Homo sapiens: one gene and its partner. The protein of the gene in region 2 purifies or fractionates together with the protein of the main gene of each other region. This does not show direct contact. Each region holds a gene or a part of one and is shown on either strand. Other genes may lie near its edges.

What was found. Proteins that work in one complex are often made in the same cells at the same time.
Region 1: the proteins of VPS8 (region 2) and VPS33A purify together in Homo sapiens (affinity purification with mass spectrometry; 2 studies listed by BioGRID and IntAct, with this or other methods). This does not show direct contact.

What each region holds. Positions count from the first base shown.
Region 1 is NC_000012.12:122,238,834-122,242,589, forward strand, and holds part of VPS33A (vacuolar protein sorting-associated protein 33A), read right to left. Parts: intron 3,676-3,756; coding exon 3,549-3,675; intron 1,113-3,548; coding exon 1,045-1,112; intron 1-1,044.
Region 2 is NC_000003.12:184,864,138-184,867,893, reverse strand, and holds part of VPS8 (vacuolar protein sorting-associated protein 8 homolog), read right to left. Parts: intron 1,019-3,756; coding exon 944-1,018; intron 1-943. UniProt on the Homo sapiens protein: Plays a role in vesicle-mediated protein trafficking of the endocytic membrane transport pathway.

The DNA of each region.
Region 1 (3,756 bases), on a different chromosome or scaffold from region 2:
TGTTTATTATTATTTTTCAAAGTCCAATAAAGGAGATACGTGGGAAAATGAGTTATTTTTCCACAGTCCCTAACCCTTCCCCGAAATAGCTCTGCTAGCCCCAGCCACACACACACCCTGGCCACCACACACACACACACACCCCACACACACATACATACATACACACACACACACACACACACACACCCCCCAGTGATCAGGCCAAGTCACTGGAGCCCAAGGCCGCTGAGAATACAATTGGTCACTCCATATGCCTGTCTGGACACGTCTGTCTCTAAGGACACGCTTCTGAGAGGCTACCAGATGTCTACTCCATTTCAATAGTATCAACAACTAATCTAGCAAAAAGTATCAGTAATTGTTTTATGTTAGGAATTTTCATAAAGTGAATAATTTAAAATTTGTTAATAGAGCTATTTAAAGGAGTTATATAAGAAACTCTTTCAAAAGAGCAAATACCTTATCTAATACAGTCTTAAAAAGATTTGATTTTAGGGGCCAGGTCTCATGTTGCCATGTATGGCAGAAAGTGTCTTGCACAGAATAATGTTAAATATCTGTTACTTGATAAAATCTACACTTGCACATTTTGCATTTGCTCTTAAAAATATTTAAGTGGCCGGGCGCAGTGACTCACGCCTGTAATCCCAACAGTTTGGGAGGCCAAGGTGGGCGGATCACAAGGTCGGAGATCGAGACCATCCTGGCTAACATGGTGAAACCCCGTCTCTATTAAAAATACAAAAAATTAGCCAGGTGTGGTGGTGAGCGCCTGTAGTCCCAGCTACTCGGGAGGCTGAGGCAGAATGGCGTCAACCCGGGAGGCGGAGCTTGCAGTGAGCAGAGATGGCGCCACTGCACTCCAGCCTGGGCAACAGAGCAAGCTGGGTGACACACAGTGAGACTCCGTCTCAAAAAAAAAAAAAAAAAAAAAAAAAAAAAAGGCAAGGCATGGGAATCAAAGCAATTGGTTTTCTGGCTATAATCTGAGGTTTAATAAGCTTTCAATTACTTGTTAAAGAGGTTTTTTTGTCCACATACCTTATCAGTGTCTATTCCAGACATAAACTCCTGTTCCACGGTTAATTTATCAAAAAAGTCTTCAGAAGCTAAAATGAAATTAGCAAATTTGCAACTTAGAAATTAAATGTTAATTTACTTGAGTGGCATGCTTTTATACACAGAGCACGATTCAGAAACTAGACATGTGGCTGGGCACGGTGGCTCACACCTGTAATCTCAGCACTGTAGGGGGCCGAGGTGGGTGGATCACTTCAGGCCAGGAGTTCAAGACCAGCCTGACCAACATGGCCAAACCCCATCTCTACCAAAAACACAAAAATTAGCTGGGTATGGTGGCACACACCCGTAGTCCCAGCTACTCGGGAGGCTAAGGCACAAGAATCACTTGAGGCGGGGAGGCGGAGGTTACAGTGAGCCAAGATCACACCATTGCTCTCCAGCCTGGGCAACAGAGCGAGACTCTGTCTCAAAAGAAAAGAAACCAGACATCATGCAAAAAAGCAAGCAAGCAATAAGTTCAAGTCATCACCTGAAGAAAATCTTTTAGGAAACATGGAAAACGCTAGGCCTCTGCACTCCTAAGTTACACTAGATACAGTCGACAAGTGCACTCTTTTGTATCCTTAGGATTTCAGTACAGACCCCAGAATGAGCGTCAGTATGAATGAAAGCTAATTTCTCAAGAACATTTCATTTTCATCATTAGGTTCAACCCAATTTCAACTGGTTTCCACTCCTATGAACAGGGAAACAAAGGACTGATTTTCCGATAACTGTGATTTACTTAAGATTCGAAGTATACTTCATAAAACAATCTCCTACTCAGCTTTTACAGCCCTGTGTTGTAACAAACAAACAAACTCATGTCTGCTTTAATAGATGTCTTCTGAGCTCTTTCAAAATACTCAACATATACTCTTTGTACCAATTCTGCACAGAATATTCAAGGGAAGAACATGCGCCAATAAGTAATCCTTCAAAAAAGGAAAAAAGCTGCTGGCCGCGGTGGCTCATGCCTGTAATCCCAGCACTTTGGGAGCCAAGGCAGGCGGATCACCTGAGGTTGGGAGTTTGAGACCAGCCTGACCAACATGGTGAAACACCATCTCTAGTAAAAATAGAAAATAAGCCAGGCGTGGTGGCAAGTACCTGTAATCCCAGCTACTTGGGAGGCTGAGGCAGGAGAATCACTTGAACCCGGGAGGCAGAGGTTGCGGTGAGCCAAGATTGTGCCATTGCACTGCAGCCTGGGCAACAAGAGTGAAACTCCGTCTCAAAAAAAAAAAAAAAAGAAAAAAAGCTAGACTAAAAAAATTAACCATCTCAGATTATGATGGCAAACTTATGGATAATTTTTTTCTCTTATCTACATTCCAAATATTTTTCATATAAATGATAATGAAAAAATTTGAGTTAAAAAATGGACCCTTCCTCTCTTTCTCTTTTTCTTTCTTTCGTTATTTCGAGATGGAGTCCTGCTCTGTCGCCCAGGCCGGAGTGCAGTGGTGCAATCTTGGCTCACTGCAACCTCTGCCTCCCGGTTCAAGCAATTCTCCTGCCTCAGTCTCCTGAGTAGCTGGGATTACAGGTGCCCGCCACCACACCTGGCTAATTTTTGTATTTTTAGTACAGATGGTGTTCCACTATGTTGGCCAGGCTGGTCTCGAATGCCTGACCTCAGGCGATCCACCTGCCTCGGCCTCCCAAAGTGGTGGGATTACAGACATGAGCCACCTCGCCCAGTCTTTTTTTTTTTTAATGGAGTCTCGCTCAACCAGGCTGGAGTGCAGTGGCGTGATTTCAGCTCACTGTAACCTTTGCCTCCAGGGTTCATGTGATTCTCATGCCTCAACCTCCTGAGTAGCTGTAACTACAGGCATGTGCCACCATGCCCAGCTAATTTTTGTATTTTTAGTAGAGACAGGGTTTCGCCATGTTGCCCAGGCTGGTCTTCAATTCCTGGACTCAAGTGATCTGCCTGCCTCAGCCTCCCGAAGTGCTGGGGTTACAGATGTGAGCCATCATGCCTGGCCAACAAATGGAACATTCTTTTTGTTTTGTTTTTCGAGATGGAGTCTCACTCTGTCACCCAGGCTGGAGTGCAGTGGCGTGATGTCGGCTCACTGCAACCTCCGCCTTCCAGGTTCAAGCAATTCTCCTGCCTCAGCCTCCCAGGTAGCTGGGACTACAGATGCATACCACTGTGCCTGGCTAATTTTTGTATTTGTAGTAGACATGGGGTTTCATCATGTTGGCCAGGCTGGTCTCAAACTCCTGACCTCAAGTGATCTGCCCGTCTTGGCCTCCCGAAGTGCTGGGATTACAGGCATGAGCCACCATGCCCCGCCTGGAATATCCTTAACTATTAACATATGTATACTTCATTAACACTGAGAAGAACACGTGGTATTAAGACAGAGCTGACTCTCCCGAAGAGGCATTGTGGTGTTGATGACCTAGGTGTCAAACGTTGTATGTGCAAGTAGCCCCAGACTGAAACAATCATTACAAAGGATACTCACTAGTGACATCTTTGATCAATTCTGCAATTGAGGTATGGTTTGCAAGCGAGCCCCTTGCTGCCTGCATGTGGGGCAACTGGGAAACAAACTGCTTGATCTCCCCCACGGTCTTAGCATTGTGTCTTTCCTGAAATAAACAAGAGAGCAGTGCCTCAAGCAGGGAAGATAGTTTATTTATTTTATTTTTTTGAGAAGGACTCTCGCTTTG
Region 2 (3,756 bases):
TATCTTAGAATTTACTAATGGGTCTTCAAGAACGCTTTTCTTTTTTTTGAGACAGAGTCTCGCTCTGTTGCCCAGGCTGGAGTGCAGCAGCGGGATCTTGGCTTACTGCAACCTCCACCTCCGGGGTTCAAATGATTCTCATTCCTCAGCTTCTCGAGTAGCTGAGATTACAGGCACCTGCCACCACAACTGGCTAATTTTTGTATTTTTACTAGAGACAAGGTTTTGCCATGTTGGCCAGGCTGGTCTTGAACTCTTAGCCTCATGTGATCTGCCCGCCAAGACCTTCCAAAGTGCTGGGATTACAGGTGTGAGGCAACGCATCTGGCCTAGAACTCACATTAAAGAGTAAGTCTATTTAAAGGTCTACAGTCCAAGAAGGAGTTAATTCCATGGACAAGAAGCAAGGAAAGCCCAAGCTCATTTCCCTCTACTGACTTGGCAATATTTTGGTTAAATTTTAATAATGAAGAAATGTTTCTCCATGTTTTTTAAAAAGCACAGGAACAAACTGAGATAAATTGAGGTACAGAAAGTTCCTATTCCAACAATTCTATTCTAAGTCAAATACCTCAATACATTTTAATCAGCATCCTAAGCTGATCTAAGCTAACAGCCATCTTAAGTACATGACAAATATCCATGATTAGGTAGCTGCCTGGTCATAAAAACATAAACGTGAAGGAAGCTTACAAAAGCACATCTCTGAATCAAGAAAATAAGCATCCTATTAGCCAGCACCTAAACAAAAGTAAAGAATATGTCTAAAAGTAGAGGAAAAAAATAATTAACTAAAAATCATGCCTACCTAACCACAAAGGGTTTAGGATAATTGCTGACCAATATTCACTTTGCAATATACTGCCCTCTTTACCAGCAATCTCCTTCAGCCTCAACTACCCTGATACATACAAATACCAACTCACAGAGTAAAAGAGCTTACTTTTGTCCCCAAATAAAAGATCTGACCACCATAGCTACTGATGGATTGATAACAAGCCTTCTCTCCAACCAAAGCCTGGAAGAAAAACATACATACAAAAAAGGTAAAAAAATTCCTTTGTATTTAATATATTTTTTAACATTTCATCACTATTAATGACTTATTAGTTACACGTCTTTTTTAGTGATTATAGTTTACAATGTGTAACTTATCTCAGTCTACATTTAAATAATATTTGGCATATACTGTAAGAACCTTGCAATGATGTACTTTCATCTCCTACATCCCAGCGCTACATACTATTTTTGTTATATATATTGCTTCTATAGATCATAAACTTCACAACACATTATTTTTGTTTTAAACAGTCAATTGCTTTTGTTAAACAACAGTACTGAGATATAACACACACCATAAAATTCACTCATTAGGCACAGAATTCAATGATTTTTTAGTAAATGTACAGTTGTTCAGCCATTATCAAAATCCATTTTGAGAACATTATCATCACTCTGCAAAGATCCTTGTACCCACCTGTAGTCACTCCCATTCCCACCTCCAAACCCAGGTAACCACTAATGTACATCTGTCTCTATAAATTACATTTGCCTTTTCTGGACATTTTATATGAATAGAATTAAACAAAATGTGCTCTTATTGCATGTCTTCTTTTACTTAGTATGTTTAAGATTCATCCATGTTGTAGCCAAGTATCAGCTGTCATACTTTTTACTGTGGAACAGTATTCTATTAAATGGCTATGCCACATTTTGTACATCCCTTTACCAGTTAGTGAATATGTAGATTGTTTTCACTCTTCGGTTATTAACAATAATACTGCTATGTGTGTTCATATACAAGTTTTTATATAAGCGTGTGTTTTCAACTCTTTTGGAAACACACCTAGGAGTAGAACTTCTGAGTCAGATTGGTAATTCAATGTTTAACTTTTTTTTTTTTTTTAAGATGGAGTCTCACTCTGTCCCCCAGGCTGGAGTCCAGTGGCACCATCTCGGCTCACTGCAACCTCTGCCTCCTGGGTTCAAGCGATTCTCCTGCCTCCACCTCCCGAGTAGCTGGGATTACAGGTGCCTAGCACCAAGTCTAGCTAATTTTTGTATTTTTAGTAGAAACAGGGTTTCACTACGTTGGCCAGGCTGGTCTCGAACTCCTGACCTCAGGTGATCCTCCCGCCTCGGCCTCCCAAAGTGCTGGGATTACAGGCAAGAGCCACCACGCCTGGCCTCAATGTTTACCTTTTAATTAAGTGCCAAACTATCTTCCACAGCATTTGCGCCATTTTAGTTTCCCACCATCAATGTATGAGGCTTCCAATATCGCCACATCCTTGCCAACACTTGTTATTCTTTTTTTTATGATAGCCTTCCCAGTGGGTGTGAAGCAGTATCTCATTATGATTTTGATTTGCATTTCCCTAATACCTAATGATGTTGAGCAGCTCTTTAAGTGCTCACTGTCCACTTCTAAATCTTTACAGATCACTGTTGACTGTCTGATGAGAAATGGGTTCTCATAATTATTGCTCCTCTGCATTTAATGTGTCTTTTTTTCCCCACTGGTTGCTTTAAAATTTTTCTACTTATCATTAATTTTGATCAATTCGTATACAGTTTATTTTAGTTGTGCTTGGGTTCACTGAGCTTCTTAAATGTGTGTGTCTACAGTTTTAGAAAAGTTTTTGACCATTAGTTTTTCCAATTTCTTCTCTCCTTTAGAGATTTTAACTGCACGTACATTAGGCTATCTGATGTGGTCTCACAGTTCACTAATACTATTTCTTAAAATTATTTTCCTGCGTTTCATTTTGTATAATTTCTATTGTTGTATCTTCAAATTCATGAATCGTTTTTTCTGTATTGCCTAATCTGCCATTAATCCCATCTAGCGCATTTTTTCATCTATAAGCACTATAGTTTTCATCTCTAGAAGTCTGATGTGCATCTTTTCAAATATCTTCCATGTCTCTACTTAACTTTTTTAACTAAAGAGTATAGTCATAATAACTACTATGTCTTTGTCTGCTAATTCTAACATTTATGTCAGGTGTGATTTAGTTTTTATTTTTCTCCTTGTTATAGGTTGTTTTTCTTCTTTGCATACCTAGTAATCTCTAATTGGATGGGAGACATTGTGAATTTTACCTTGTTGGTTTCTGGATCTTTCTGTATTCCTATTAATATTCTTGTGTTTTCTTCTAGGAGATAAGTGATTTGGAAACAGTTTGATCCTTTCTGGTCTTACTTTTAAGATGTGTTAGCTGGGACCAGTGCGCCATTTATTCTAGTCCTAATGAGGCAAGATGCCTCTAAGTACTCTACCCAATGCCCTGTGAATCATGAAGCTTTCCATTCTAGCTGGTGTAACAAGCACTGTTTTCAGCCCTGTGTGAGCACTAGATACGGTTCCCTCTAAACCTTTCAAATGGCTCTTCCCTGGTCCTTGGGCAATTTCCTTCTATGCATTTGCTGATTAGGAGTCTGAGGAACACTCAAGAGGGACTCTTTCATAGTGCTCTTTTCTCCAGTACTCTCTCTTGCAAACTCAACCCAATTTTGTCTTCCTGCAACTTGGCTCTGTCTTCTCAAATCATGGAGTCTTCCAGGCTCCATTTGGGTTCCTCCACAGCCCAGATGCTCTCTCAAGGCTGGAAGCTAGGACAATCACAGAGTTCACAGCATTTGTTCCCCATTTGGTGAGAGATTGCTGTCCATCACTACAGATGTCCAGTGTCTTAAGAACTGCTGTTTACTTTTCTTCTTCTTCTTCCTTCCCCCTTCCCCTCCCCCTCCCTT